Regions from separate parts of the Homo sapiens genome. Here regions 1, 2 and 3 are each linked to region 4. The links come from fine-mapping of genetic effects on plasma protein levels. Region 4 holds a variant in brackets. A gene starts in each other region. All regions are shown on their forward strands.

What was found. PIP is the posterior inclusion probability: the model's chance that the variant is causal. The UK Biobank Pharma Proteomics Project read protein levels with antibody pairs (Olink). The fine-mapping took linkage between variants from a reference panel, not from the people measured, so its PIPs are less certain.
Region 1: it holds the start of ITGAL, and the variant in region 4 is fine-mapped to the plasma level of the ITGAL protein (UK Biobank, PIP 0.99).
Region 2: it holds the start of CXCL10, and the variant in region 4 is fine-mapped to the plasma level of the CXCL10 protein (UK Biobank, PIP 0.93).
Region 3: GCNT1 starts here. The variant in region 4 is fine-mapped to the plasma level of the GCNT1 protein (UK Biobank, PIP 0.98).

What each region holds. Positions count from the first base shown.
Region 1 is chr16:30,471,904-30,479,476 of GRCh38, forward strand. It overlaps ITGAL (integrin subunit alpha L), which reads left to right and starts at 839. Exons shown (of 31, transcript NM_002209.3): 1 at 839-995; 2 at 2,293-2,395; 3 at 3,403-3,497; 4 at 3,610-3,677; 5 at 7,188-7,305; 6 at 7,428-7,558. The coding sequence starts at 935. RefSeq lists cis regulatory regions at 434-1,008, 446-1,008, 449-1,008, 459-1,008, 487-1,008 and an enhancer at 980-1,069.
Region 2 is chr4:76,020,370-76,027,985 of GRCh38, forward strand. CXCL10 (C-X-C motif chemokine ligand 10) reads right to left here and starts at 3,128. Exons shown (of 4, transcript NM_001565.4): 1 at 3,002-3,128; 2 at 2,322-2,448; 3 at 1,997-2,086; 4 at 749-1,579. The coding sequence starts at 3,062. The coding sequence ends at 1,561. It also overlaps a transcript of ART3 not described here.
Region 3 is chr9:76,455,837-76,463,452 of GRCh38, forward strand. It overlaps GCNT1 (glucosaminyl (N-acetyl) transferase 1), which reads left to right and starts at 3,346. Exons shown (of 4, transcript NM_001490.5): 1 at 3,346-3,469; 2 at 4,224-4,341. RefSeq lists silencers at 3,131-3,670, 4,661-4,730, 7,567-7,616 and an enhancer at 4,281-4,390.
Region 4 is chr12:111,758,608-111,766,223 of GRCh38, forward strand. No RefSeq gene overlaps it. Among named protein-coding and RNA genes, the nearest start is that of ALDH2, 4.5 kb to the right of the region's middle. RefSeq lists enhancers at 1-277, 3,057-3,592. The variant T/C (reference allele first, on the strand shown) is at 3,739.

The DNA.
Region 1 (7,573 bases), not on the chromosome of region 4:
GAGGATCGCTTGATTCTGGGAGTTCAAGGTTGCATTGAGCTGTGATCGCGCCAGTGCACTCTCGCTTGGGTGACAGAGCAAGACCTTGTCTCAAAAAATTTAAAACAAAACAAAAAAAACTGGTTATTTGTCTTTTTATTGTTGAATTATAAGAGTTTTAAAAAATATATTCTGGAAACAAATCCCTTATTAGAGATATGATTTGCAAATATTTTCTCCAATTTTTTTTTTTTTTAAAGACAAAGTTTCACTTTGTCGCCCAGGCTGGTCTTGATTCCTGGCTTCAAGAGATGCTCTTACCTCCACCTCCTGAAGCCCCAAAGGGCTGGAATTACAGCCAGTGAGCCACTGCACCCAGCCTCCAATTCTTTAGATTTTACATTTTAGAACCAAAATGGGTTAAATACACTGTTCTGTAATCTGCTCTTTTCTTTAATAGTAGTTCATGTACATCTTTCAAGGTCCAGAGAAAGCTCTCACTTTCTCCCCGTTTTATTTTTCCTTCCCTCATTCTTTTTCACTGCTGCATAGCATTCCATTGTAATTTTGCCACTGTTTATTAGACCAGTCCTCTGCTGAGCTTTACAGAGCCCTTAGTTGGGATGTTAGTGAGAAACCATGACAGCAGTGGAGACTGTCATCTCCCTGACATGCTGTCAGCTTTTGGATGATGTGAAAATGCAAGCAGGCACAGGAAATGTCTCTAACTTGCTTACACTTCCTCCCTGAACCCCTGCGGTTTCACAACTCCTGCAGGCACACCTCCCTCCCCGCCTGCCAGTGTCACCAGCCTGTTGCCTCTGTGAGAAAGTACCACTGTAAGAGGCCAAAGGGCATGATCATTTTCCTCTTTCACCCTGTCTAGGTTGCCAGCAAATCCCACGGGCCTCCTGACGCTGCCCCTGGGGCCACAGGTCCCTCGAGTGCTGGAAGGATGAAGGATTCCTGCATCACTGTGATGGCCATGGCGCTGCTGTCTGGGTTCTTTTTCTTCGGTAGGCAAGGGAGGAGGCAGGGGAAGGGACATGTGTCTGTGACCAGAGAAACTGCAGGGCTTGGTGCAGCTGGAGTAAACAAGGAGCTGCCCCCTAAAAGTGGGATTGGCCTTAGGGATATGGGGCCCAGGGATCTTGGAAGGAGAAAGGGGAGAGTGGGGAAATAAAAGAAACAAATAAGCAAGGGGTGGAGGCAAAGACAGAGAAGGGAGCATAAGAAGGGGCAGTGGGTTCTTTAAAAAGACAGATAGGGCCAGGCGCGGTGGCTCACGCCTGTAATCCCAGCACTTTAGGAGGCTAAAGTGGGCAGATTACTTGAGGTCAGGAATTTAAGACAGACTGGCCAACATGGCAAAACCTCGTCTCTACTAAAAATACAATAAAATTAGCTTGGCGTGGTGGCACAGGCCTGTAATCCCAGCTACTCGGGAGGCTGAGGCATGAGAATCATTTCATCCCATGAGGCAGAGGTTGCAGTGAGCCAAGCTCGTGCCAATGCACTCCAGCCTGGGTGACAGAGCAAGACTCTGTCTCTTAAACAACAAACAAACAAAAGGCAGATAGTTATTGAGTAGCTAGAGCTGGGAGGAGGGTGCTGGGTTCTGGGGCCACCTCTGCGCGTTTTAGGCAAGTCCTTTCCCCTTTCCAGCCCCACACCCTTCATCTAAACAAATGAAGGCCCAGCCTCCATGACATTCTAGGATGCTCTGAACTAAACTCCATGCGGGGAGAGAAAGCAGGGCGGAAAGGACAGCTGGGTGTGCCAGGGCGCCTGGGCAGGCTGACTGAGGGGGAAGGGAGCTGGGATCTACAGATGCTCCGAAAGACTGGCCCGGTGGGGTGGGGAGGCAGCCCCCCAGGGATCAGGGGAGCTACAATCTGAGACTGTGGGAGGAGGCGCCTGGGCCCCATGACCGCAGGAGAAGTGGGTGGCAGAGGCGCACCCGGCTCGGGGGCATCCCCATCTTGGCCTCTGCCTGAGAACTTGGTCACCCTCTGCCTTGGGGCCCCTTGGGTCTGCTCCTCTCTCTGGAGCCTCTAACTTCTCATCCTTCCTTTTTTGCAGAGAGGCCAAACGGGAAGTTGTATCCTCAGGCCCTGGGAAGAGCTTTCAGAGCTCTAGGGGGGCCGGGAGTTGCTCCTTCCATATTCCCAGAAGTCAACGCCCTGGAGGGGAAGCGCAGGGTGCGGGTGGCCTGGGGAGCGACATCCGGGTGGGCCTGGGATCGGCCACCTGCTGGGCACGTGCAGGGGCGGGGGTCCCTCGGTCGCAGCTGACGACCCTTGCCTTCCTCAGCGCCGGCCTCGAGCTACAACCTGGACGTGCGGGGCGCGCGGAGCTTCTCCCCACCGCGCGCCGGGAGGCACTTTGGATACCGCGTCCTGCAGGTCGGAAACGGGTGAGCTGTGCCCCACAAGTCCTCCTCCTGATGCCCGCCCTGGGGCAGCCCCCGAGGCGGTGGCCGCCTCCCCGACCCTCGCCTGGGCTAGTCGGTGGCACGAGGCAGCTCTCCAGGGGTTCCCGTCTGGAGGAGCCTGTGGTGGGAATCCTCAGAGACAGGAGTGAGGGATCAAAAAGCGGGATACACGCGATCAGGGAGGCCATGGAAGTGCAGAACAGGGAAGGATCCCAGCCCCAAAACACTTCGCATTGCCCAGTAGGTTCCTGACACTCCCTTACTCCCCTGCGAGCGCCTGGAAGCCAGGAGTCTGTTCTCTCTTCCTAACCCTTCTTAGATACGCCACCGCCCAGCACACAGTAGGTAAGCCATGAATGGCTTTTGAATCAAGGATTGAATGAATGTACTTATCATGAGACATTCTGGCGGATCATTCTCTGGGCCTCAGAGACTGTAAATGCAAAGGAACCTTAATTTTCTAGGATTTTAGCATTTGGAATTATTTCTCTGCGATTCTGTAGGGAAGAGATGAGGACGGAGGCATCTTCTTTTTTTTTTTTTCTTTTTTTTTTTTTTGAGAGGGAGTTTTCGCTCTTGTCGCCCAGGCTGTAGTGCAACGGTTAGATCTCACCTCTCTGCAATCTGTGCCTCCCAGGTTCAAGCCATTCTCCTGCCTCAGCCTCCCAAATAGATGGGATTACAGGCATGCACCACCATGCTGGGCTAATTGTTGTATTTTTAGTAGAGACGGGGTTTCACCATATTGGCCAGGCTGGTCTCAAGTTCCTGACCTCAGGTGATCCACCGACATCGGCCTCCCAAAGTACTTTGGCCTCATGCGAAAGTTACAGGCATGAGCCACCCCACCTGGCCAGAGGCACCTTCTTGAAGGGGAATGGCTGCAGTGCTTGGAGAAATGAGACAGGAGATCTGAACCTCCTTAGCAGGCAGGAGTAGATGGGTACAGATCTGGGCCACTCCCTCTCACAGGTGAGATTTCTCACCAGGGTCATCGTGGGAGCTCCAGGGGAGGGGAACAGCACAGGAAGCCTCTATCAGTGCCAGTCGGGCACAGGACACTGCCTGCCAGTCACCCTGAGAGGTGAGTAACTGGGGGGTGAGCTGGGAGGAATGGGATCTTGGGGAAACTGAGGCTGGCCCCAGCCCACCTAGACTGCCTGAGCTCCTCCAGACCAACCTTCTGGTGCCTACAGGTTCCAACTATACCTCCAAGTACTTGGGAATGACCTTGGCAACAGACCCCACAGATGGAAGCATTTTGGTAAGAATTTTGTGCAGTGGTGTTATCAGAGCCTGTGAAGCTCAATTCAAGTAATGAGAGAAGAAAAGAAGAAGAATGTGGATAAAAGTTCCCACAGATGGTCAAAGGCATCAGAGTCAATTAGTGTTTATTGAGAACCAATGATGAACCAGCCTTTTTTTTTTTTTTTTTTTTTTTTTTGAGACAAGGTCTCATTCTATTATTCTATTGCCCAGGCTGGAGTGCAGTGGCGTGATCACAGCTCATTGTAGCCTCAACCTCCCTGCACTCAAGTAATCCTCCCACCTCAGCCTCCCAATTAGCTGGGACTATAGGCGCATGCTACCATGCCCAGCTAATTTTTATATTTTTTGTAGACAGAGAGTGTCACCATGTTGCCCAGACTGGTCTTGAGCTCAAGAATCCTCCTGCCTCTAATCCCAGCACTTGGGAGGCCGAGGCAGGCGGATCACGAGGTCAGGAGATCGAGACCATCCTGGCTAACACGGTGAAACCCCCATCTCTACTAAAAACACAAAAAATCAGCCGGGCATGGTCGCGGGCGCCTGTAGTCCCAGCTACGCAGGAGGCTGAGGCAGGAGAATGGTGTGAACCCGGGAGGCGGAGCTTGCAGTGAGCCGAGATCATGCCACTGCACTCCAGCCTGGGCGGCAGAGTGAAATTCCGTTTCAAAAAAAAAAAAAGAATCTTCCTGCCTCAGCTTCCAAAGTGCTGGGATTACAGGTGTGAGCCACCACACCCAGCAGAGCCAGCTATTTTCAATAACTTAACCTCACTTTTCTTCCAAATATGAAATATCTGTGATCATTGATATGCAATATGATTTTTAGTGGTATACAAACTTTTAATGTTTTCATGGTTATAAATTTAATGGCTTATTAGAAAAAAATATATGACAAGCACATCAAATTTATAATTTCTTACATCATATTGCTTAGGAAGAGGCTGAAGTTAAACAAAAATTTAAAGGAAAATATTAAGAAAATAATAGTATGCTCATATGGCAGATATTGTGAAGTATTACACAAATGCCTAAAGTTTAGGAAACACTGCTTTTTTTTTTTTTTTTGAGACAGAGTTTCACTCTTGTCACCCAGGCTGGAGTGCAGTGGCATGATCTCAGTTCACTGCAACCTCCGCCTCCTGAGTTCAAACGATTCTCCTGCCTCAGCCTCCGGAGTAGCTGGGATTACAGGCGTGTGCCACCATGCCTTGGCTAATTTTTGTATTTTTAGTAGAGATGGGGTTTCGCCATGTTGGCCAGGCTGGTCTCGTACTCCTGACCTGAGGTGATCTGCCCGCCTCGGCCTCCCAAAATGCTGGGATTACAGGCATGAGCTACCACACCTGGTCACTTTATTTCTTTTAAACCCTCAAGACACTCCGGTGAGATAGGGATCAGTGTACACATTTCACACACGAGGAAACAGGACCAAAGGGTTAAGAGACTTGACCAAGGTCACATGGTTGCAAAGTGGTAGAGTCAGGATTTGAATAAAATTCTCATTTGATCCCAAGTTCATTGCTCTCTCCAACTTATCCCAGCCAGCATCCTTCTGTGTGAGAGATAGAAGACTGAGTGAAATATTCATCCAGTATTTAAGTAGAGCTTGTTTATTTAGCTACTATTATAGCCAGGCATTGGGCGAGGTTCTGACAGGGGAAGGGGAGTGAGATACAAAGTTGATGAGGCCGGGCTGGTGGCTCACATCTGTAATCCCAGCACTTTGGGAAGCCAAAGCTGGAGGATTGCTTGAGGCCAGGAGTTCAAGACCAGCCTGGTCAATCCTGTCCCTACAAAAAAAAAAAAAATGTTTTTTTCATTAGCTGGGCATGGTGGCACACACGTGTAGTCCCAGCTACTTGGGAGGATCAGTTGAGGCCAGGAGTTCAAGGCTGCAGTGAGCTTGATCATACCACTACACTACAGCCAGGGAGACAGAGTGAGACCTGTGTCTAAAAAGAACAAAAACAAAACAAAGCAAAAAGATGACCATGATACAAGCCCAGACTTTGAAGAAATTGCAATCTGGCAGGAAAGGGTCATAAATGAAAGAAATGACTTTGGGAGGCCGAGACAGGTGGATCGCTTGAGCCTAGGAGTTTAAGACTGGCCTGGGCAACATGGCAAAATGCCATCTCTACAAAAAAAAAAAATAGCCAGGCATGGTGGCGTGTGCCTGTAGTCCCAGCTATTTGGGAGGCTGAGGTAGGAGAATCACCTGAGCCCAGGAAGTTGAGGCTGCAGTGAGCCATGATTGTCCCACTGCACTCCAGCCTGGGTGATGGGAGTGAGACCTGAAAAGAAAGAAAGCAAGGAAAGAAAGCAAGAAAGCAAAGAAAGGAAAGAAAGAAAGGACGGAGGGAGGGAGGGAAGGAAGGAAGGGGAGAGGAGGAGAGAGAGATAGGAAGGAAGGAAGAAGAAAAAGAAAGATGAAGGAAGGAAGGAGAAGGAAGGAAGGAAAGAAAGAAAAGGCTGGGTGCAGTGGCTCACTCCTGTAATCCCAGCACTTTGGGAGGCCGAGGTGGGCAGACACAAGGTCAGGAGTTTGAGACCATCCTGGCCAATATGGTGAAACCCCGTCTCTACTAAAAGTACAAAAATTAACTGGGCGTGGTGGTGGGCACCTGTAGTCCCAGCTACTGAGGAGGTTGAGGCAGGAGAATCACTTGAACCCGGGAAGCAGAGGTTGCAGTGAGCCAAGATCGCACCACTGCACTCCAGACTGGGTGACAAAGCGAGACTCCGTCAAAAAAAAAAAAGAAAGAAAGAAAAAGAAAGAAAGTGGGGGGCGGAGGGGAGGGGAGAGGAAGGGAAAAAGAAAGAAAGAGGCATGGCCGGGCGCGGTGGCTCATGCCTGTAATCCCAGCACTTTGGGAGGCCGAGGCAGGCAGATCACGAGGTTGGGAGATCAAGACCATCCTGGCTAACACGGTGAAACCCCGTCTCTGCTAAAAATACAAAAAATTAGCCGGGTGTAGTGGCGGGTGCCTGTAGTCCCAGCTACTCAGAAGGCTGAGGCAGGAGAATGGCGTGAACCCGGGAGGCGAAGCTTGCAGTGAGCCGAGATCATGCCATGCAGTCCAGCCTAGGCGATAGAGCGAAGACTCCATCTCAAAAAAAAAAAAAAAAAAGAAAGAAAGAAAGAGGCACTGTATATTCTGGGAATCTTGATAATTTGATTTGGCTGGAACACAGAAAAAGAGATTGGGACTAGGAGAAGATGGACCTGGAAATGTGGGGTCGTGCCCAGTGTAAGCCCAGATAAGGAGTCCAGACTCACCACCAGTCCTACAGGCGGTGAGCATCCATTGGCATAGAGCATTGGTAGGATGGGAGGGATGGACAGTAGAGACTGTGGAGGCGGACATTCCTTGCCTTGGTAACCAGTTGGATAGAGGAAGTGAGAAAGAGGACAAGGACTCTGAACGTTCCTAGTTTTGGTTGATGTTGCCCAAAAGACACATAGCAAATAGGAGACCCAAATCTTTGGCCTTTGCTTTCTTTAGGCCTGTGACCCTGGGCTGTCTCGAACGTGTGACCAGAACACCTATCTGAGTGGCCTGTGTTACCTCTTCCGCCAGAATCTGCAGGGTCCCATGCTGCAGGGGCGCCCTGGTTTTCAGGGTAAGGAACTGGGGACTCATTGGGTAAAAATACCTCCAAATGGCTGTCCCTAGAGAGAACCAGCATGGGCAGGTCAAACACCAGAGATGCTTCACTGGGTCCCTTGCGTCTGGCTTCTGCAGAATGTATCAAGGGCAACGTAGACCTGGTATTTCTGTTTGATGGTTCGATGAGCTTGCAGCCAGATGAATTTCAGAAAATTCTGGACTTCATGAAGGATGTGATGAAGAAACTCAGCAACACTTCGTACCAGGTAAAAAAGTTAGTT
Region 2 (7,616 bases), not on the chromosome of region 4:
TTACAGGCATGAGCCACCACACCCAGCCTTGTCTTTTCCTTTTTGATCTATGGGAATTCTTTACATATTCTAGATGCTAATAATTTGCCAACTAAATGTATTGTGAAGATCTTCTTAGTAAGTAATTGGATGTGGGAGGAGAGGAAGAAGTAGTATAGAATTACTCCCAGGTTTCTGGTTTGGGAAACTGATTGGATGATGGTGCAATTAAACTAGGACATAGAATAGAGGAGGAGAAACAGATCTCAGGGAGAGGAGAATTAGTTTATTTTGGAGTTTAAACTAAAGTTCCTATGGGATATTCAAGTGGACATGTCTTAGAGAAATTTGGCCATAGGGCTGGATGTGGTGGCTTGCACCTGTAATCCCAGCTTCTCTGGAGGCTGAGGTCAGAGGATTACTTGAGCCCAGGAGTTCGAGGCTGCAGTGAGCTATGATTGCACCACTGCACTCCGGCTTGGGTGACAGAGGAAGACCCTGTGTCTAAAAAAATAAGAGATTAAAAAAAAAAGAAATTTGGCTATAGGGATTTGGAGATTAGGCCAAGCTCTGTTATGCTACATTAGTTCTGTAGGATCTTATATGATGGGCCTTTCAGGAGATTACAGTTGGAAGGAGAGAGAGTGGTAATTCTCTAACTCATTTGTCTTCTGCCCATGCCACCTTCTTCTCCAGGCCATAGATTTCTCCAATCTAAGTTTCTTATGAAATAAATATCCCAACCAAGTGACACACAAGGCACTTCATCTTAGTTATAATTACTTTATTAACCTTTTGATCTTTCAACATTTAGATAGTCTTTCTTAATATTTCCAGGAGAGTACCTCATTTTTATTTTGAAAACCATTCAGCACATTTATCTTATGTAACATGCAGAGCATATATCTATCTGTATTTTTAAAATTTTCCTGTTACTCATTGATACATAGTACTTAATTACATGTTATTCCATGTACACTGAAAACAATATAGGAAATATATACATCTAAGACTTCTACTTTGTACAGTCTTTCATTAAATAAGAATACTTACACATACATTTTCAGATATTTCTACCTTCCTGTATGTGTTTGGAATTGTATGTAGGTAGCCACTGAAAGAATTTGGGCCCCTTGGGAGGATGGCAGTGGAAGTCCATGAAGTAAAGAGCATTCTTTAAAAAGCAGATTTGATTGCATACCTTTTAGTTATTTGAGATTCTGAGAATTCTGATAAACCCCAAAGCAGAAAGATTCCTTAGTACCCTTGGAAGATGGGAAAGGTGAGGGAAATATTTGAAGCAGGGTCAGAACATCCACTAAGAACATAGCACCTCAGTAGAGCTTACATTATAGTGCCAGGGTAGAGTTATTACTGAATAGCTTAGGATGATGAACATTAACCTTCCTACAGGAGTAGTAGCAGCTGATTTGGTGACCATCATTGGTCACCTTTTAGTGTAACTGCAAACTAAGAACAATTATGGCTTGACATATACTCCATGTAGGGAAGTGATGGGAGAGGCAGCCTCTGTGTGGTCCATCCTTGGAAGCACTGCATCGATTTTGCTCCCCTCTGGTTTTAAGGAGATCTTTTAGACCTGTAAGAAGAGAAAGGGGATATAAAAGTGTGATAGTCTGACTCTGGCTTCAGATTGGGTTGTGTTTGGAAAGTACCGAGTTCATAGAATAGATAACTGAGCTTTCCTGCTGCTATGCATTCATTATGGATTATAGGGGTTGCTTTTTTCAACCATGAAAGACTTGGGGAAAATGTTGTCAGTTTTGCTTAGATAGTTATAGCTGTACTTCAAGGTTGACTGGTAATCAGGGTAACTTCTGATACTTATCACACAAGATGGTGCCTCAGCATTTAAATAAATGGAGGTAGGGGAGGGCGTGGTGGTAACATACTTTTAAACCAGCGATTGCACAGCAAACCACAATGCAAGTATTTCTGACTCCCAAGATTGCCGTTTCCTAAAGAGCAATTCTTCTGCAGGCAACAGCAAACCTACCTTTCCTTGCTAACTGCTTTCAGTAAATTCTTGATGGCCTTCGATTCTGGATTCAGACATCTCTTCTCACCCTTCTTTTTCATTGTAGCACTGTAGAAATAAATAGGGATGAAAATATTTAAAACTGTGTTGGGTCAATAAAACAGATGGCATACGCAGTTCTGAAGTCAGACATTTAAGTTTCACTCTGCATGTTTTTGTTTGCTGTACATTAGTTTTAGAATCATCACAAACCCTTTACTGATCTTTTTTTATTATCATTACATATTTAATACAGTATATAATTACAACCAGGGAAGTGATAATCAGATGGGATTTCACTCACATGATCTCAACACGTGGACAAAATTGGCTTGCAGGAATAATTTCAAGTTTTTCTAAAGACCTTGGATTAACAGGTTGATTACTAATGCTGATGCAGGTACAGCGTACAGTTCTAGAGAGAGGTACTCCTGTAGGAAAAGAGGAACAGCAGAGAAGGTTAGCACAGTGTTCATTTTAGGCATTTAATGTAGACTGGTGGTATTTAGCAGAACCTATATCCCCATATCAGCAAATAGTCACTTAATCTGAGGAGGAATGGATCACATCATAACACAACTGTAAATGATTAAAGAGTTGATTATCTGGAAGAAAAGAATTGCAGCTTGTTGATTATAAAGTCAAACCCTTAAGCACAGTTCATGTGGTTCATTGAGCTTAGTTAGGTAAGGAAGTATCTGTATCTCATCTCTGTCCGCATTCCCTCACATTTTCTCTCTCTATCCTCCCTCTTCCCCATCTCTTCTGTCCTCCTTCCCTTTTTCCTTCTCTTTCTCTTATTCTATTTGTTTCTCTCACTTCAATTCATATAAGTTTTATGATCTGAGGGAATCTCTATTTATTTCCCTCTTATTTATAAGCATGCAGTGAAACTTTTACAAATACATTATTTCTGTATTTTTAGAATTTATACCTATTCCTATTTCTCATTTTACAAATTAAGTATCCTTTGATGTTCCTTACCTTGAATGCCACTTAGAGTCAGAAAGATAAGGCAGCAAATCAGAATGGCAGTTTGATTCATGGTGCTGAGACTGGAGGTTCCTCTGCTGTAGGCTCAGAATATGTCTAAGCAATTGAGGAATGTCTCAGAAAACGTGGGGCTAGTGTGCCATATTTATCTGCAAAGCCATTTTCCCTCCCTAATTCTGATTGGATAAGGGCATTACAGTTGACTTAGCAAAACCTGCTGGCTGTTCCTGGGGAAGTCCCATGTTGCAGACTCGAAGGTATTATTTATTGTAGCCTCCAAGTTACGGAATTTCCCTCTGCTCCTCTTTTTTTGGTAATAGTGAATTAGGTTTCACTTTCCAAAACATGAACTGTTTCTTGAAAAAAAGAACTTCATTGCATATAGAAAAAAACAAAGGTTGCAATCCATTCTAACTATAATGCTTTTTCTCAACACTTAAACTTTTACAGTTACTTTCAGAGGTTATTTTTCAAAATATCCCCAGTAATAGAAATTTTTCATCCTTTATAGGTAAACCTAATTTTTTGGTAACAGCAAGTTGTGCCTGATTATTAGAACAGTGATTTACCTGGACAGTCCTCCTTGATCAAATACTATAAAGTAATAGGACTGGCCTGCTTTGACAGGGTCAAAGATCTGGAACTGGCAAGTTTTAAATAATTCAATAAATGCTTTGATCATTCATAACACCATTAGATTAAGTAAATAGCCTCCAACATAACTATTTTGAGGGAAAACATTGCTCATTTGGGTATCTGATTTGTGGTGTGTTAAAACAAGTTTCACGTCTTATAGCAGTCCCTGAATGAAAACATCATAAGATGGTATCTAGAATGGTGTGAGAAAAGGATTCATAGCTATCCTAGGGTTATTGTAAAAAACAAAGGGTGCTTTTTGAGGAAATGAATTTAAAAGCGGGGGGGCACGCATAGAGACAGACCTTGGGAAAGTAGCTTGAGACAGAAGGGAAACAGGTTGATTTACGATGGGGTTCAGCTCCAAGACACTGTTAAATGCAAAGAAAAAGAAAAAAAAAGTGTTGGCCATTGAGCTAGTAACAGTGATAACTGAAATTGGCACAATTTTAACTGGATGATGAATCGTGGCAAAACTTAATTTCACAGCATTCAATAGTACTTGACTGATTATTCATAGTAGCTAGCAGTAGAAAGCACATGATACTCATATAATGGAACACATGTTGAACCTGAGAGTGGAAATTTAGCAGTATCCATGGATATAGTGGTCCTTGGTTGTGTTCTTTGCAAATGATTAGTAACAGGGAATCCAAGATGAAATACTGTTTCAAAGGCAGGCACCACCCTGCAATGAGAGATCTGAGGCAAGTGATATTTAGAACCTAGGAAAATATATGGGAGTTCTTTTCATAGTCAGCTGGGCTGCAACAATGCAGGGATTGGTCAGGGAATGGAAAAGCTTCCATCCTAGGATCAGGCTACTGTACTAGGCAGATACTGTCTCAGAACCTGGTATCAGGGGCCAAGAATAAAGCCTGTATCTGCAAACTGGGTGCACATAAAACTTGGATCCTCAAATGTAGGAACTCCATCATTAAAGCAGAGAGTGAGTTGCTTGGGGTAAATGGAATTTGCTAGAGAGCTGAATCCCATGTTAATCTGTTCTAGGAACTGGAATAGAGCTAAGCTTTCAAGTGAATAAGTCAGTGGAATTAGCTGTGGGAAACCGGAAAGGCAAAAGAGAGGGAGGTGAGGTAGAGACTGACAGAACCCAAAAGACTTTCACCTAGCAAAGAGGCGTTCGTTCTGATGAGGGAAAGTCTTATGAGAAATAGTGACAATGGAGGGATCCTTCCATACCTATTTGTGCAGAACAAACATTTTACTGTGAATAGAATGCCAACAAATTTCAGAGAAATGTCTGACATCATGAATGGAAGAGGCCTAGAAAAGTTCAACATTAAACAATCAAAATGAGAGATGGTGACAGTTTTATTTTAGTTGGTATCTAAGTTGTCAGCTAAAATGTCTCTATATAGAAGACAATGTAAAAAGGAGATACTTGATAAATGGACTAAAAATCTGTTATTAGGGATAAAATATTTGATTTTTACTAAACATTGTATTACATTAACTGTGTGCCAGGCATTGTTTGAACTGCTTTGTGACTATTGACCATATTGACTCATTTTATTCTTATAATAACATCTACCTCTGACCCAGCCACTCTTCTATTTTTTTCACCATAGATTATTTTTGCCTGTTCTAGAACTTCATATAAATGGAACCACTTGAGTATATACTCTTTTGTGCAAGACATCTTTTGCTCAGTATAATGTTTCTTAGATTCATCGATGTAGTTGCATGAATTAGTAATTTGTTTCTCTTTATTGATGGGTAGTAATCCATTGCACAAACATATCAGTTTGTTTCTTGTTGATGGACACCTTGACTGTGTTCAGATTTTAGTTATTATATATAAAGCTGCTACGAAGATTTTTTTATAATTTTTTTTCTGGGCATATGCTTTCATTTTGTGGGGTACATATGTAGCAGTGGAACATGATCACTTACTTTTTTTATTTAAAAAACGTAAGTGATCACGTCACTCTTCTGCTTAAGACCTCAAACAACTTCCAGTTAGAATAAAATCCAAATTTCTAATTAAGCTGCTTTACTAAATCCTCTATGATCTGGCTGCTACCTATTTGTCCAACCTCATATCATTCCTTCTCAACCACTACAATCCAGTCAGTGGCCCATACACTGGCAATTTTCTCCATCTGGTATGCTTTTCCTCCTGTTCGTCACATAGAGAGTTCCTTCTGGACATTTAAATTTTAGCTGGCTTGTACCTTCTCTTGTCACACAATCTGAAGCAGACATGACTTTAATTCTCTACATGGCATTTCATACTATCTGATATTCAGTTCATTCATTTTTTTTAATTAGTGTAATGTCTGTTTCTCCATGCTAAAATGTATGCCCCAGGAGAACAGGGAACTAAAATGCATATGAGAGGCATTTGGTAAATATTGGATAGAAGGATGGTTGAATGAATCTTTACAGACTTTAAGTGACAGCATACCAGGATTGTATTTCAAGAAGTATTTCCATTTGTTCATCAGATTTCTGAATCTGGACATGAGTATTATTGTTTTCCTTAGCTTTAAGAACCAAGTTTAATTTAAGAAGACTATAATTTCCCCAGAAGTTAGTTTAGATTTAAGTAGGTAAAATCAATACAGATATTCTCAGCTAGCTATAGGACAGACTCTTCATTCCGGAACTCTGGTAAATATAGAGTGGTACCCCTAAAAGCTTCTTAGTTATTTGCTGTTTTTTTATCTGTAATTAAGCATTGAATGAATGAATGCAGGAATGCAAATATCCTCAGTGCATATCATGTATATGGCCATGGATGGTGTTAGAAGAAGGAGGAGAAGTAGGCTTGTTCTCATTATTTTCTGTGCACTTTGTGTAGGGAACTAAGCTAATCTCAGGGAATACTAGAAGGGTTGAGATCCAATATTTATCCTTGATGGGTTTACATTCTAATTGGGAAGACCAGAAACTATGAAACAATAAATATCAATAAGAGAAACTTTATGGGCCGGGCAAGGTGGCTCATGCCTGTAATCCCAGCACTTTGGGAGGCCCAGGCGGGTGGATCACCTTAGGTCAGGAGTTCTAGAACAGCCTGGCCAACATCGTGAAACCCTGTCTCTACTAAAAATACAAAAAATTGGCTGGGCGTGGTGGTGGGCGACTGTAATCCCAGCTACACAGGAGGCTGAGGCAGGAGAATCACTTGAACCCTGGAGACGGAGGTTGCAGTGAGCCGAGATCACGCCATTGCACTCTAGCCTGGGCAACAAGAGCGAAACTCCGTTTCAAAAAAAAGAAAAGAAAAAAAGAAACTTTATGATCAGTACCAAATGAGTGGTATAGAAAATAAATAATGTGGAGGTTCATAGGAGACTGTACTCATTAAGGTCAGAAGTTTTCAGAAGATCCTTCAGAAAAAAAGACCTCAGATGAGCCATAAAGTGTGAATGTTACTTAAGTAAGTGGCCAGGAGAGGAAAGCTTGTGCAATTACAGATAAATGTCATCAAAAAATGGTAAAGGGGGAAGCCAACCAACCAGTCAGAAAAATTGGTAGACTCATAGGGGTGATAATGCCGTGTTAGGATTCTATAAAATCTGGTCCTCAGTTTTTCCAGTCCAGAAATTCTCATTTTTTCCTAATCATCCAGGGTAAGCATATTCTCAGAGAGTTAACTCTGCTAACCAAATCTCAGATAGACTAAGATGAAAATTAAAAGACAGTGTATCCATTACAATCCATTACATTTGATGACAGATAAATGTCATCAAAAAATGGTAAAGGGGGAAGCCAACCAACCAGTCAGGAAGATTGGTAGACTCATAGGGGTGATAATGCCGTGTTAGGATTCTATAAAATCTGGTCCTCAGTTTTTCCAGTCCAGAAATTCTCATTTTTTCCTAATCATCCAGGGTAAGCATATTCTCAGAGAGTTAACTCTGCTAACCAAATCTCAGATAGACTAAGATGAAAATTAAAAGACAGTGTATCCATTTACAATGAGAACCTTTTCAGTGAC
Region 3 (7,616 bases), not on the chromosome of region 4:
AAGTGATCTGCCCACCTCGGCCTCCCGAAGTGCTGGGATTACAGGCATAAGCCACCATGCCCTGCCTCTGTCCCGTTATTTGATTGTACTTGTAACTATAGTTTTATTATGACATTTTAAGAATATATTGCTATTGTATTAATCATTACTATGACAGCTGTGTTTATCAGACACTTTCCCACATCTATAATATTAGGAGAGTTGGGTGTTTGTGATCATGAGTTTGCTCCTTGTGCTGGTTATTGAAGTATGTCTTAGAGTTCAAACTCAAGCTTCTATCTTCTGCTTTGTGAGCCAGGGCTGGGACTTAGCAAATCACATTTCCTATAAGGTTTTGCTTATAAGGGGTGCTTGAGGAGAGGGACTTGCTACTTTATAGCTGCTTACTGTTCCTGTCCATGTTACCAAGCAATGGCTCTTCTCCCTGGCTGCAGCAACAGCTGGTTCCAGTTTCTTAGATTTGTTTGTTTGTTTTAATCCACCCTCTCCCATCCAGCCTCAATATTTACCTTCAGAGATAAAAGCACCAGCTGGGTACCGCCCCCTCCTTTGAGGTCTGACTCCCAGCCAACCAGGGGCCCTCTCCTGGCTGTTAGGTTCTGATAACCCCAACACTTCCCCTCTCCCCAGCTCTGTGCATGGCAGCTGCTTCCTGCAGTTACTCTCTCTCTGTTACTACAATGTTTTTGCCTTGCCAATCTTCATGACCTTAAATTCTCTGTAAAAGTAATTGCTGTGATTTCTGTTTTCTGACTGGGCCCTGACTGATACACCCCTAAGCATTCCAGAAATACCTTCTAAACTACTTGTATAGATTTATGGGTGTATGTTATTGCAGGCATTAAAAATAAGTGGGCTGGGCAAGGTGGCTCACACCTGTAATCCCAGCATTATGGGAGACTGAGGTGGGTGGATCGCTTGAGCGTGGGAGTTCAAACCCAGCCTGGGCAACATGGTGAAACCCTATCTCTACAAAAAATACCAAAAAATTACCGGGCATGGTGGCACACACCTGTAGTCCCAGCTACTTGGGAGGTTGAGGTGAGAGAATCACCTGAGCAGGGGTAAGTTGAGGCTGCAGTGAGCTGTGATTGCGCCACTGTGCTCCAGCCTGAGTAACAGAGTGAGACCCTGTCACATACACAAACAAAATGGATTACACTTATGGTATACAGGCAGTATCCAACTGACAAACAAGATATATTCCAAAAGTTAATTCATAAATCTATTGCTTGGCCACCACCCCTGGTTAATTTATCTATTTTTATTTTGTAGAGGTGAGGTCTGGCTATGCTGCCCAGGCTGATCTCAAACTCCCAGGCTCAAGTGATACTTGTACCTCGGCTTCCTAAAGTGTTGGAATTACAAGCGTGAGCCATTGCAAACAGCCAGCTATATTTTATTTTTAATTAATTAATTTATTTATTTTTGAGATGGAGCCTTGCTTTGTCACGCAGGCCAGAGTGCAGTGGCACGATCTCAGCTCACTGCAACCTCCACCTCCCGGGTTCAAGCGATTCTCATGCCTCAGCCTCCTGAGTAGCTGGGACTGCAGGCACACGCCACCGCAGCTGGCTAATTTTTGTATTTTTAGTAGAGACGGGGTTTTGGTATGTTGGCCAGGCTGGACTCAAACTCCTGACTTCAGGTGATCCACCCACCTCGGCCTCCCAAAGTGCTGGAATTACAGGCATGAGCCACTGTGCCCAGCCCCGGCTATACTTTAAACTTATGTTTAGCAATTAACATGTCAGTATTTTAACTTACAAATGACTCAGACATTTAATGAATATCTATTACTTAATTTAATATGTTCGAAATTTCAAGTCACCAAAAAAGATTTTTAAAACTATTTTTAAGTAGACAAATTTTATAAAACAAATTATTTTTAAAAGTTTATAAACTTTTATTCCATTTACATTTACCTAATCTACTTGCTCTTAACAATTATGCTTGAATTGCTCATGAAAAATTTCATGAGATATTAAACAAAGCTAGCCATTGAAGGAGTTCAGGAGTTTTTCCCAAAATCATTTCCTCTCCCCTAAATTGTCCCTCCCCAATGAAGAGGATACACAAGCTCCTAAAATCTCAGTTTTTGTTGGGGGAGGCAGAGGGAATATTAGTTTTTCTTTTCTGTGATACCCCCTACACGAAATCTGTGTACTTTTTCTCTTGTTAATCTACCTGCAGTCAATTTATTTCATAGACTTAGTTATCCAAGCCTCAGAGAGTAGAGGGGAAGTCTTTCTTCCTCTATACCATCATCTTATGTTAATTTTTGTTGACAAATCAGGCAAGTGTCAAACATATCACAGTCTAATGGCCTCTGAGTTGGATTTTTTTTTTTTTTTTTTTTTTTTTGAGATGGAGTCTCGCTCTGTTGCCCAGGCTGGAGTGCAGTGACACGATCTCGGCTCACTGCAAGCTCCGCCTCCCGGGTTCACGCCATTCTCCTGACTCAGCCTCCCGAGTAGCTGGGACTACAGGCGCCCGCCACCACGCCTGGCTAATTTTTTGTATATTTAGTAGAGACGCGGTTTCACCATGTTAGCCAGGATGGTCTCGATCTCCTGACCTGGTGATCCGCCCGCCTCGGCCTCCCAAAGTGCTGGGATTACAGGCGTGAGCCACCGCGCCCGGCCAGAATTTTTTTTAAACAACATGGAAACAAATAAGACCTCGTTCTGTTTTCTAGGAGCTAAAAATCCAACGAAAGAAGACACAGACACAATATTCCCCTTGTTACAAAGAGAACTGTGTCAACTTTTATAACTGACACAAAGATCTGTGCTATAAGGGCGGGGAAGGTTTTTTCCTACTTTCCACAGCACTGTGGATTGTTCCACAGTTTAATTTGATCTTAATTTTTATGTGGAAATACACATGAATGTAATGAGTTCTTAAATGCTAAATTTAGGAAGCAAGGTTCGTTAGGGGAGAGAAAAAAACACCTACATGGTTATCTCTAAACTTTACATATCGAGAACCTTGGAATTTAATTTTATTGTTGTTCTGTAACATATTTTCATGTTTAAAATCAGAAAAGGCAGCATTTCTCGAGTTTCCTGCTTTCGAGGAAGGGAGGCATAAAATGTTTAAAAAGACGCCGCTCACACACCTCTTAAGAATCAGAGCACAGTGAGGAAGAGGAGCGAGGAAGCACTAGGATCGCAGCGCTACTCCCAGACCACGTCAGTGCCCAGAGGGCGCCCTCGCCTGTAGGCGGGAACCGCGAGTCCGCAGCAAGTCCCCAGCCCCGAGCTCGCGCAGGTGGGCGAGGCGGGGACGTGGTGGGCGGGGCCTAGAAAGGCGGGGCCTCTGGGGGCGGCCCCGGGGCGGGCCACGCTGGTGTGAGGGCTGCAGGCGCAGCTCCGGAGCGCCTAGAGCGCGGCGCGGGGCGGGAGCTTGGTGGAGCAGGAGCGGCTGGGCATCCTCCTGAGACTCCGGGGTCAGACGCCCACTCCAGGTAACCGGCTCTCCCTCGTGTTCCCCTGCTCGGCCGCCCGGCGGTGGGGGAAGGCTGAGAAGGATGGGTGGGAGGGAGCCGGCTCTCAGCCAGTGCCCCGTGGCCCCGGGCGGGCTGGGCTCCCCCGCGGAGGAGGAAGCAGAACCGGGGTGCGCCCGGGACCGGAATGGAGCGGCGCCTCTTCCTTCCACCTTCATTTTCCGTCCGCTCAGTGGGGCTGGGACGCCGGTGCCCCGTGTCCCCTGAAAGTCACTTTCTGGCCTCTTGCCCCTGGTCCGTGTAGCTTAGATGTCGGAGGGGTTGGCTGCGGGCGTGGATAGGCAGGGAACGAACAGACTCGCTGCCATCCCATGGGTGCCAGGGGCTTAACTTCATTTAACTTCATTGAATCCTAACGCCAGCCCGGCTAAGATGCATTTTCACCCCTACTTTACTGATAAAGAGGCCAACGCTAGGATAATAAATGACTCACCCTGGAGCAAACTATTACTAATAAGAAAAGAGACGTTAGTTTAGGGGCTCCGAAGCCTCTCCTTTCCTGCTCCCTCGCTTTCCTTCTTCTCGCGGCAGTCTAGGAAACTCGCGCGCAGGGTCTATTACGAAAACAAGTGATTCGTCTTAAAAGCATTTTACCCCCTCCTAGGTTTCTCTTTCCTCTTTTTTTTAAGTATCTCAGGCAGATTCCTCCAAGTTTTGGTTATTAGGTTTTTGAAATGGAAGAAGCCCTTGCTCACTGCTTCTTTTCTCCTGGCAGCGCTTTCTGCGCAGCACAGGCACCCTCGCCTGTCACGCCTCCCTCTCCTCTTCCCGTCTCCCAGCGTGGATGAGGGCGCCTGCAGATCCCGGCTAGGGCACGGACCGCCTAGGCCGAGGTAGGTTCTGTAGGCACCTGGCATGCTGTAGATGCATATAAACGTTGCCCTGTACACCCTTTGCCTTGTTATTTCTTTCTGCAGAAAAGAGAGTCGGTTTTTTACACATAATGGGGCAAGAGGCCAATTGGGAAGATATATGGTGTTCAAAGAAAGCCGTGGTGCCTTGAGATGAGAATGCGGCCACAGCTTTTTGTGGGCTGAATTTGATGGGTGGGAGGTGAGAGACGTGGTCTGGAAGTTGTCTCTTCGTCTGGCATTCTGCCCCCCTTCCAGAGCTGTTCTGAAAGGCCGGTTTGTTTTATAGAGGGGAGGAGGAGGGCTTAGTAGTTTTTAAAGATCAGTGTAAATTACCTGCTAGGAGCTTAGGCAATTCCAGGCAGGCCCCCCTGCTGGAGGCTTTCGTAACAGATTTCAGTTCTAGCAGGGAGGAAAACTCAGACTGTGTAGATACCTGCTTTTTCTTAAAGGAATTTTTTTCGGGCCCTTAAAATGGTAGTTTTGGGAAACTGATTTCTTAGAAATGGCAAACTCCTTTATTTTAAAATACAATATACCAAACTATGAATTTACTTTTAAAAAGTTTTATTGGCCGAGAGGTTGATATTTTTTCCATTTCATGATGAGGGTTTGACGGTCACTGCCACCTCCTCTGCCCGTCCTTCAACTTGGCCCTGTAAAGGATCTCCTTAGCCTTGGCCCCAAGTTTGTACTAGATTCTATCCTTCATTAATTATAGTTCATTCTTGATTAATGATAGCAATGCTTCCACTCACTTTTTAAGGAGTTACTCCTTTTCCGTTTGTAATTGAATTGCTTAACAGTAAGAAAAACGTTTTTCCCTAAAACTGGGATCACAAAATCCACTTTATCCACATGGACTAAACAGGTAATGCACAAGAGTGCTTGGTTGGGCCCAGGTGACTGCAGAGGAACCTGCTAAGGCTGGGTGGATATTGGCCATTTCCACCGAGTATCCATGCAGGAATTCCCATTCAGCCATACAGTGTAGGCAGCTTTTTTTTTTTTTTTTTTTTTCCACGAATAGCTGAGAACTTTTACTTAAAAATAAAAAATGTAAAGCCTGATTTTAAATATTGGCTCATATTTTTTCCTTTTTAGAACACAAAGAGGGCCGGGCGCAGTGGCTCACACCTGTAATCCCGGCACTTTGGGAGGCCCAGGCGGGTGGATCACGAGGTCAGGAGTTCAAGACCAGCCTGGCCAAGATGGTGTCTCTACTAAAAATTCAAAAATTAGCTGGGCGTGGTGGCTAGGCGCCTGTAATCCCAGCTACTCGGGAGGCTGAGACGGAGAATTGCTTGAACCCGGGAGGCGGAGGTTGCAGTGAGCCGAGATTGCACCACTGCACTCCAGCCTGGGTGACAGAGCGAGAGTCTGTCTCAAAAAAAAAAACACACACAAAGAGCCTGGGCATGGTGGCTCACACCTGTAATCCCAACATTTTGGGAGGCTGAGGCAGGTGGATCACTTGAGGTCAGGAGTTCAAGACCAGCCTGACCAACATGGCAAAACCCCATCTCTACAAAAATATTCAAAAATTAGCCAGGTGTGGTGGTGGGCACCTGTAATCCTAGCTACTCAGGAGGCTGAGGCAGGATAATTGCTTGAACCCGGGAGGCGGAGGTTAGGATGAGCAGGGATCGTGCCACTGCACTCAAGCCTGGACGACAGAGTGAAGCTCCGTCTCAAAACAAAAATCCCACAAAGAATAAAATCAAATTTGTTTCATGCATCATCTGTTTGCAAAACTCTGCCTTAAAAACTGCTACTGTACACGGTGATTATATTCTCCGATGAATGGAAAATTCTGAACTGTGATGTAGATATTGTACATTTTTCATGAAATGAAGTGGTAGAAAACAGAAATTACTACTGGAAATGATCCCTTCTGACTGTCAAATTCTGTTTTCTATGAAGTGTGTGGTATTTCAGCTATACTGTATTTTTTTTTTTTTTATAGAGCCAACCAAGGACTCTTGTCACTATTTTTATTTATTCTAATGAGAAATGTATTCATGGTTCCAGGTCAGTATGTCAAATGTCTAACTCCCTGTCTTAAAAAGGGAGTTCCCAAATGACTGTTCATATAACCATATGTGTTTCTTGTGGAGACTGTCTGTATTCTTGGCTTTGTCACTGGATTTGTGGCTTAGTGCTGTCACGTTTCCTATCTGAGGCAAATGCCATATATGTTTAGACCAGCCTTTCTCAATTGTGGCACTTTTGCCATTTTTGGCCAGTTAAATTCTGTTGTGGGGGCTGTCCTGTGCATTGCAGGATGTTTAGCAGCATCTCTGGCCTCTACCTACTAAATGCCAGTGCACCCTCCCTGCAGTTAAATGACCCCAAATGTCTCCAGACATAGGCAAATGTTCCCCGGAGAACAAAGTCATCTTTGGTTGAGGAACAAAATGAACCTATATTTAAGATGGTCTAAATGTTTCTGAGATGGTCTAAACATTTATAAGCTTAACAATTAACTTGAAACTCTTCAGGACTAGAGAAGCTATTTGTAAATTTAAACATCTGACGCCTTGAAACACCTTTATCATAAAGATAACTAAACCAGTGTTCTTTGTGAATGGCCAATGTGTCCTGCCAGTTTCTTTTTTTTTCTTTTTCCTATTCTGAGAAGCATGCCCTGCCAGTTTCTATCTCCAAAGAAATTTCAAGCGTTCAGTGTATTTGTTAAATTTCATAAAGTTTAAAAAGTTGAAAATGAAAAAGGAATTCTACGGTAGTTTTAAGTAGAATTTAGTTTTAAGAAAAATTAACCTCTTTTTAGCTAACAGCAATAAAACGAAGACTGCTGTGTATTTCTGTAATCTGAAAAATCTCGACTTTCTCAAAGGGAGCGCTACATAATGTATGATATAATTTATATCAGAAGAAAACATGTCCTAGAAATGTAACCCTCTTTCTTAGGACTTACATGTGCTCAGGGAGGTTGAAAACAACCTTGATTATGGAGGATGCCTCCTTAGCTGGGGATTAGCTATCCACTGTTCCCTTCCAGAAATCAAACTAATTTGTAAAACTCAGGACTGGCTACATAATTTGTGGGGCCCCTTGTTAAAAAAATTAAGAATTTGAACATGGTGACCACAGAGCATTAAGCCAAGCACGGCCCAGTGTGACTGCGTTGGTTGCCCACCCATGAGCTGGCCCTGGTGAAACTCTTTATTCATAGCTAAGAGTAAGGTTGTGGTCACAAATGCAAATCTAAACCGTGAAATGTTACTGCTGCCACT
Region 4 (7,616 bases):
CAGTGATCTCTGCTGCTTGTACCCATTGTCAGTCCCCCAGGGTTGTCGGTCACCACCCAGGGCTTCAGAGTTCCCCAGGGATGCCTCGGGCGTGCCAAGGCTGTCACTCAGAGACCCCTCTTGTTGGTATTTCTGCTGCCCTCCCTGCTGCGACATAGGTACAGATTTCTCCCCTTCGTCCATTTTACCAAAATGGATGCGCGTTGGGACAGGTGAGTCCCGGACTCCAGCGGCCTGGGGCCCACACCTGCAAGTAACCTGGGACAGGGTTTCTTTTAATCAAGTTGACTGAGTGGAGAAATGGCCCAGGGGATTTTCTGTCCTATCAGTGTTAGACGGATGACACAGTGGTGAAGAGCTGTCAGAGGTAAAGGCGGACACTAAAGTGGTAGGGACAGGTTTTATTTATTTTTCTGAGACAGAGTCTCACTCTGTTGCCCAGGCTGGAGTGCATTGGTGCCATCTTGGCTCACTGCAACCTCCACCTCCTGGGTTTAAGCAGTTCTCCTACCTCAGCCTTCCGAGTAGCTGGGATTACAAGCATGCACCACCATGCCTGGCTAATTTTTGTATTTTTAGTAGAGACAGGGTTTTGCCATGTTGACCAGGCTGGTCTTGAACTCCCGATTTCAAGTGATCTGCCTGCTTCAACCTCCCAAAGTGCTGGGATTATAGGCGTGAGCCACCGTGCCCAGCAGGGACAGGTTTTAATCAGTCATAAGCCATTGCTTTAGAGAGCAGGGCCCAGCGGGAACTGAGCTCCACTTGGATTTGTGCGGAGGTGATGGGAGGGGTGGTGGTTGGGAGGGGGGCTCAAGAGTCAGGAAGGGGAACCAGAGAGAGCAGGAAGGAGTGTGGTTGGCGTGACACCTGTCTGGGTTTGCTAACTGGCGCTTAGGGTTAGGCTCCTGCCCTCCCTTGGAGGCTGGGGGACAGGGTCCATCTTCTAGTGTTGCTGGAACAAACAGTAATTTCTTTCAGCAGCTTTGGGCTTTCTCAGGCAGGTACGGGCATCCCACAGATGTGGTCTTGAGATGTTGGACACCATGTAACTTAAGTCTTTTCATGGGAGTATGGGGGTGTGGACTTAAGCATTTGTGCTGAAAGTCTGCAGTTTTAATATGCCAAGTTTGAGGTCTAGTGGAGATGGGAGTTCAGAGGAAGGCTGGCGAGAGCGTGCTCAAGGAGAGAATTTTTGTCAGGACTGTGGCTCTAGATTCAAATGGCCCAAATTCAAATGGGTTTAAATCCTGACTCTGTGACAGAGTAGCTGGGCAACCTTTGGAAATGTTCCTTCATCTTAGAGACTTAGATCTCTCGTTTTATTTATTTATTTATTTAAATTTTTTTTAAGAGACAGAGGTCTCACCATGTTGGCCAGGCTGGTCTCAAACTCCTGAGCTCAAGCAATCCTCCTACCTCAGCATCCCAAAGTGCTGGGATTATAAGCATGCGCCACCACACCCGGCCAGATTTCTCATTTGAAAAATGAGTAGACCAGTCCTTGCTTCCCAGAATCACCTGAGGATTAAATGGGATGATGTGTGGCTTACCATAAGCCACAGCACACACCAGCTGTTCGTGTGTGGCTGGAGTCAGGAGCGGGACCCGCTAAAGAGGAGGCGGCTGTGCTCACATTGGAGTGCAAGAATGTGGGGCCTCATCTGGGCTGAGGACTAGCCTGGACCACATAAGATGCCATGCTTCTCACACTCAACTAGCAAAGGAATGCCCCTGCGATCAGGTTAAAATGCAGAGCGTGGTGCGGTGGGCCTGCCTTCCTAACACACTTGCAGGTCATGCTCCTTGTTTTGGGACCCACTTTGAGAAGCGAGGGTGAGAAGGGCTTGACTTCCCTAACCTGATCCCCAGGGGAGGCAGAATGAGCAGACACCGCCTGGCTAGAATCATAAGAGCTACTGGGTATTTAGTACATACCAGGTGCCAAGAACTATCTGTATATTATTATTATTATTGTTTTTTGAGACAGAGTCTCACTCTGTTGTGCAGGCTGGAGTGCAGTGGTACGATCTCAGCTCACTGCAGCCTCTGCCTCCCGGGTTCAAGTGATTTTCCAGTCTCAGCTTCCTGAGTAGCTGGGACTACAGGCACGCACCACCACACCTGGCTAATTTTTGTAATTTTAGTAGAGACGGTTTCACCATGTTGGCCAGGCTTGTCTTGAACTCCTGACAGGTGATTGACCCACCTCAGCCTCCTAAAGTGCTGGGATTACAGGCATGGCCACTGCGCCTGGCCAGTTATTTTGAACCCTATAACAATTGGCAGATCCTTTTATTCTGCCCCTGCTAGAGATGAGGAGACAGAGGTTCAAAGGAATTGTGCAACTTGCTTAAGATCACACAGCTTGTCAGTGAATTCAAACCTAAATTCAGAAGATCCCAGAGCTCTTTCTACTCCATGGCATGGATCGTTAAGATCACCTCTGTGAGGTACTGGCCTCCTCACCTAGGAAAGGAGGAAGATGATGAGGCTCATGTCACCAAGGAGAGCGTGCTGTGCCCTCAAGAAGTGCATGAGCTTCTGATGCTTCCAGAATAATCTCCGGGATGCCCCCCCGACTGCCTCTTAGGGGGTCAGGCTCCATGATGGGGGTGTCTGCCCTGTGGCCCTGGCTGCCTGTGGAGTGTCAAGCCAGCTGTGTGTCCGAGAGAGAGAGAGATTGTGTGTGTGTGTGTGTGTGTGTGTGTGTATGTGTGTGTGTGTACATATGCAAACAAGGAGGGCAGAGCTGGGGCTCAGGGCTGACCATATTTTTCCTCCTACCTGTGAGGGCAGATGTCTTACTGTGTTTTGTTTTGTTTTGCTTTTGAGACGGAGTTTTGCTCTTGTTGCCCAGGCTGGAGTGCAATGGCATTATCTCAGCTCACCGCAACCTCCGCCTCTCGGGTTAAAGCGATTCTCCTTCCTCAGCCTCCCAAGTAGCTGAGATTACAGGCATGCACCACTACACCTGGCTAATTTTGTATTTTTAGTAGAGATGGGGTTTCTCCATGTTGGTCAGGCTGGTCTAGAACTCCCAACTTCAGATGATCCGCCCGCCTCGGCCTCAAAGTGTTGGATTATAGGCTGAGCCACTGCCCCCAGCCAGATGTCTTCCTGTTAAAATGGGGCTTTAAATTCCTCACCTAACATCATTGTTTGCAACAACAGCAACAAAGAGCTTCCATAGACAGAGTCAGTGTCCCAGAACGGGGACTAAACAACCAAACATCTAGAATCTCACCAGTCAGTGACCCTGAAGGAGACCTCAGTCACAACCTTTGTTGGAGAGCAAGTGGAACTAGGGTTTTTTAAAGCCTGAAAGCACATCAGTTGTGCCCTAACAATGAAAGGTTTCAGAGTAGTTGAAAGCTAGGAATTTGAATATCTTAGAGGAAGTTAAGTGGCTTGAGGTGCTTCCACCGAAGGTCTCAGCACCATGAGAATGCCTGTGCTTCTGCCGGCCCCATTCCTGCCAGTGAGCCCACAGACAAGGGGCGATGAAGAACCAGGAAACAGATGGAAAGAAACGTGGAAGAGAGGAAAGCCTCAGACTGTCAGGGTGAAATCTAGGTTGAGAGTTAAGTTTTAGTTCATTCTTTGGAGAGACTGAGCCACAAGGAGCCATAATTACAATAGCGTTTCAGCACATCCAGGTGATCTTGGTCTGCAGTATTTGGTTGAGGACTGTGTGAAAGCAGCTGAGGCCAAATGTGGTGGCTCACACCTGTAATC[T/C]CAGCATTTTGGGAGGCTGACTTGGGTGGATCACTTGAGGCCAGGAGTTTGAGACCAGCCTGGCTAATATGGTGAAACCCTGTCTCCACTAAAAATACAAACATTAACCAGGCATGGTAGTGCATGCCTGTAATCCCAGCTACTTGGGAAGCTTGAGGCAGGAGAATCGCTTGAACCCAGGAGGCAGAGGTTGCAGTGAACTGAGATGGTACCACTGCACTGCAGCTTGGGCAACAGAGAGAGACTCCGTCTCAAAAAAAAAAAAAAAAAAAAAAAAAGCAGCTAAGGAAGGCTACTATGGTCACAAAAGACTTCCCAGAAGATGGGACTTGGGCTGGATCTTGATAGGGAAGATTTCCATAAGGAGAGAGGGCAGGACATGGGTGGAACAGGTGCACCAACAGTAGGGCACCAGGGATGAGAGAGCTGCTGGTTAGGATTATGGTGAGCACCACAGACCACAGACAAACCAGAATAAACGAACCTGTGGACCAGCGTGTCCTGCACTGAGACACACACCACGCACACCAACAGGGACGAAGCACGTTGCCCACATTGTATCGATGTATGCGAATGTGGATAAGTCAGCTCATTTTCTCCTTCCCCTCCCCACAACCAAGTTTACTGCTGCTCCTGGCTCCCCCATCCTGGGGAATAGCACATGGTAAGAACCTCAGCACCCACTCCACTCCTCTCGCCCTCATCTCCACACAGCTACCTGTCAATTCCACCTTCACACTCTTTCTGCCAACTGAGCCCTCCTCATCTCTCTGCCTCTGGCCTGCCTCCCCACTACAACTGAGTTTCCATGCAGTTCTCAGAGGAATCCCTCGAAGGCACATGTGCAACCTCATCACTTCCAGGCTGAAAGATCTTGGTTAAGAGAAATATTAGTACAAGCTATTAAGACTTAGGAGGCTGCCGGGCATGGTGGCACATGCCTGTAGTCTCAGCATTTTGGGAGGCCAAGGTGGGCTGACTGCTTGAGCCCAGGAGTTCAAGACCAGCATGGGCAACATAAAGAGACCCTATCTCTACAAAAAAAAAAAAAAAAAATTAGCTGGTGCCTTAGTCCGTTTTCATGCTGCTGATAAAGACATACCTGAGACTGGGCAATTTACAAAAGAGGTTTAGGCCAGGTGCGGTGGCTCATGCCTGTAATCCCAGCACTTTGGGAGGCCAAGGCAGGTGGATCACCTGAGGTCAGGAGTTCGAGACTAGCCTGGCCAACATGTTGAAACCCCATCTCTACTAAAAAATACAAAAATTAGCCAGTCGTGGTGGCACGTCTGTAATCCTAGCTACTTGGAAGGCTGAGGAAGGAGAATCGCTTGAATCTGGGAGGCGGAGTTTGCAGTGAGCCAAGATAGCACCACTGCACTGCAGCCTGAGTGACAGAGCTAGACTGTGTCTCAAAAAAAAAAAAAAAGAAAAGAAGTTTAATGGACTTATAGTTCCACATAGCTGGGGAGGCCTCACAATCACGGCAGAAGGCAAGGAGGAGCAAGTCACGTCTTACATAAATGGCCGCAGGCAGAAAAAGAGCTTGTGCAGGGAAACTCCCGTTTTTAAAACCATCAGATCTCGTGAGACTCATTCACTATCAAAAGAACAGTGCAGTAAAGACCTGCCCCCATAATTCAGTCACCTCCCACCAGGTTCTTCCCATAACATGTGGGAATTGTGGGAGTTACAATTCTAGATGAGATTTGGGTAGGGACGCAGTGAAACCATATCAGTCAGGCATGGTGGCATGCACCTGTAATCACAACTACTCAGGAGGCTGAGGTGGGAGGATCAATTGAGCCTGGGAGGTCGAGGCTGCAGCGAGTTGTGATTGTGCTACTGCACTCCAGCCTGGGTGACAGCGAGACCCTGGTCTTGGGGAAAAAAAACAAGAAGACTTAGAAAGCTACAGTGATGAAAACAGTGTCATACTGGCACACGCATACAGAGATCAATGACACAGAATATACAGTAGTTCAGAAATAGCTACTTACAGTTACTTAGTAGTAAAAAGATGACTGGCAGGATGTATTTGTGCCATATATGATAGACAAAATGTTAATTGCCTGGATACATATAAAGCACCTACAAATCAATTTCAGAAAGACCAACAATCCAATAGAAAAGTGAGCCAGAGACATGAGCAGCTAGTTCATAGCAGAGGAAACATGCATGACTTCATCTAGGCAGAGATGCTCAAGCTCACTCGTAAAAGAGAAGCAAATTAATGTGGTAGTGAAATGCCACTTTTTCGTCTCTCAGATTAGCAAAGCTAAAAAAAAAATCCTGAAACTTCTACTGGTGAGGGTGTAAGGAAACTCAGACATGACAGGTAGTGGGGCATAAATTAAACTTCTTTGGAGGGTAATATATCTGTATTTAAATTGTAAATATTCTTTGTTCCATTTCTACTAATTTCTTTCTTTTCTTTTCTTTCTTTTTTTTTTCTTTTTTTTTTTCTTTTTTTTTTTTTTTTGAGACGTAGTCTCACTCTATCACCCAGGCTGGAGTTCAGTGGCACGATCTCAGCTCTTGGCTCACTGCAACCTCTGTCTCCCAGATTCAAGCAATCTCCTGCCTCACCTTCTGGAGTAGCTGGGATTACAGGCACTGCGACCATTCCTGGCTAATTGTGTGTGTGTGTGTGTGTGTGTGTGTGTGTGTGTGTGTGTGTGTGTGTGTGTGTTTAGTAGAGATGGGGTTTCACCATGTTGGCCAGGCTGGTCTCGAACTCCTCACCTCAAGTGATCTACCCGCCTCAGCTTCCCCCCCAGAGTGCTGAGATTACAGGCACGAGTCATGGTGCCAGCCTCATTTCTATTAATTTCTTAAGCAAATCAAGAGCATACATTGTGGCATTGTTTGTAGTGGCAAAAGATTGGAAACAACCTAAATGTCCATCATAGGAAATTCATGAAATAAAACTACCTCATGTATCCAGAGGAATACCATGAAACTGTTGAAGAGAATGGGGACATAGTCCTTGTGTGCTGTGACAAAACGATCTCCACACACAGTATTAAGGGAAAAAAAGTACCTGGCACGGTGGCTCATGCCTGTAATCCCAGAACTTTGGGAGGCCGAGGTGGGCGGATCACCTAAGGTCAGGAGTTCGAGACCAGCTTGACCAATATGATGAAACCCCATCTCTACTAAAAATACAAAAATTAACCAAGTGTGGTGGCATGCGCCTGTAATCCCAGCCACTTGGGAGGCTGAGACAGGAGAATCGCTAGAACCTGGGAGGTGGAAGTTGCAGTGAGCCCACATGGTGCCAGCCTGGGCAACAAGAGTGAAACCCCATCTAAAAAAAAAAAGCAAGGCGCCATTGGGAAGGGGAAGTGGGGCCTGCATGGCTGAATTCAGAGAAGGAAGGGAGTCTTGGTTATCAGATTATCTCTGCAGCTGATCTCCAAACCTATTTCCCTTCTTCCTGGCACAGGGGCCACTCATTTCCCAGACTCTTTTGCATGGAGGCATGGTTGTGTGATTGAAATCCAGCCAGGCGAGCAGGCTCAGCCCACAGAAACCTCCCATGGGCCACCCCCATGCCTTTTCTTCCTCTGGTTTGTGTGGAATGGTGCTGAGCCCCCAGGGCGACTTTGGTGGAATCTGGTGTTGAAATCAGAGTCCCACCGCCGGGCGCGGTGGCTCACGCCTGTAATCCCAGCACTTTGGGAGGCCGAGGCAGGCGGATCATGAGGTGAGGAGATCGAGACCATCCTGGCTAACACGGTGAAACCCCGTCTCTACTGAAAATACAAAAAATTAGCCGGGCGTGGTGGCAGGCGCCTGTGGTCCCAGCTACTCCGGAGGCGGAGGCAGGAGACTGGTGTGAACCCGGGAGGCAGAGCTTGCAGTGAGCCGAGATC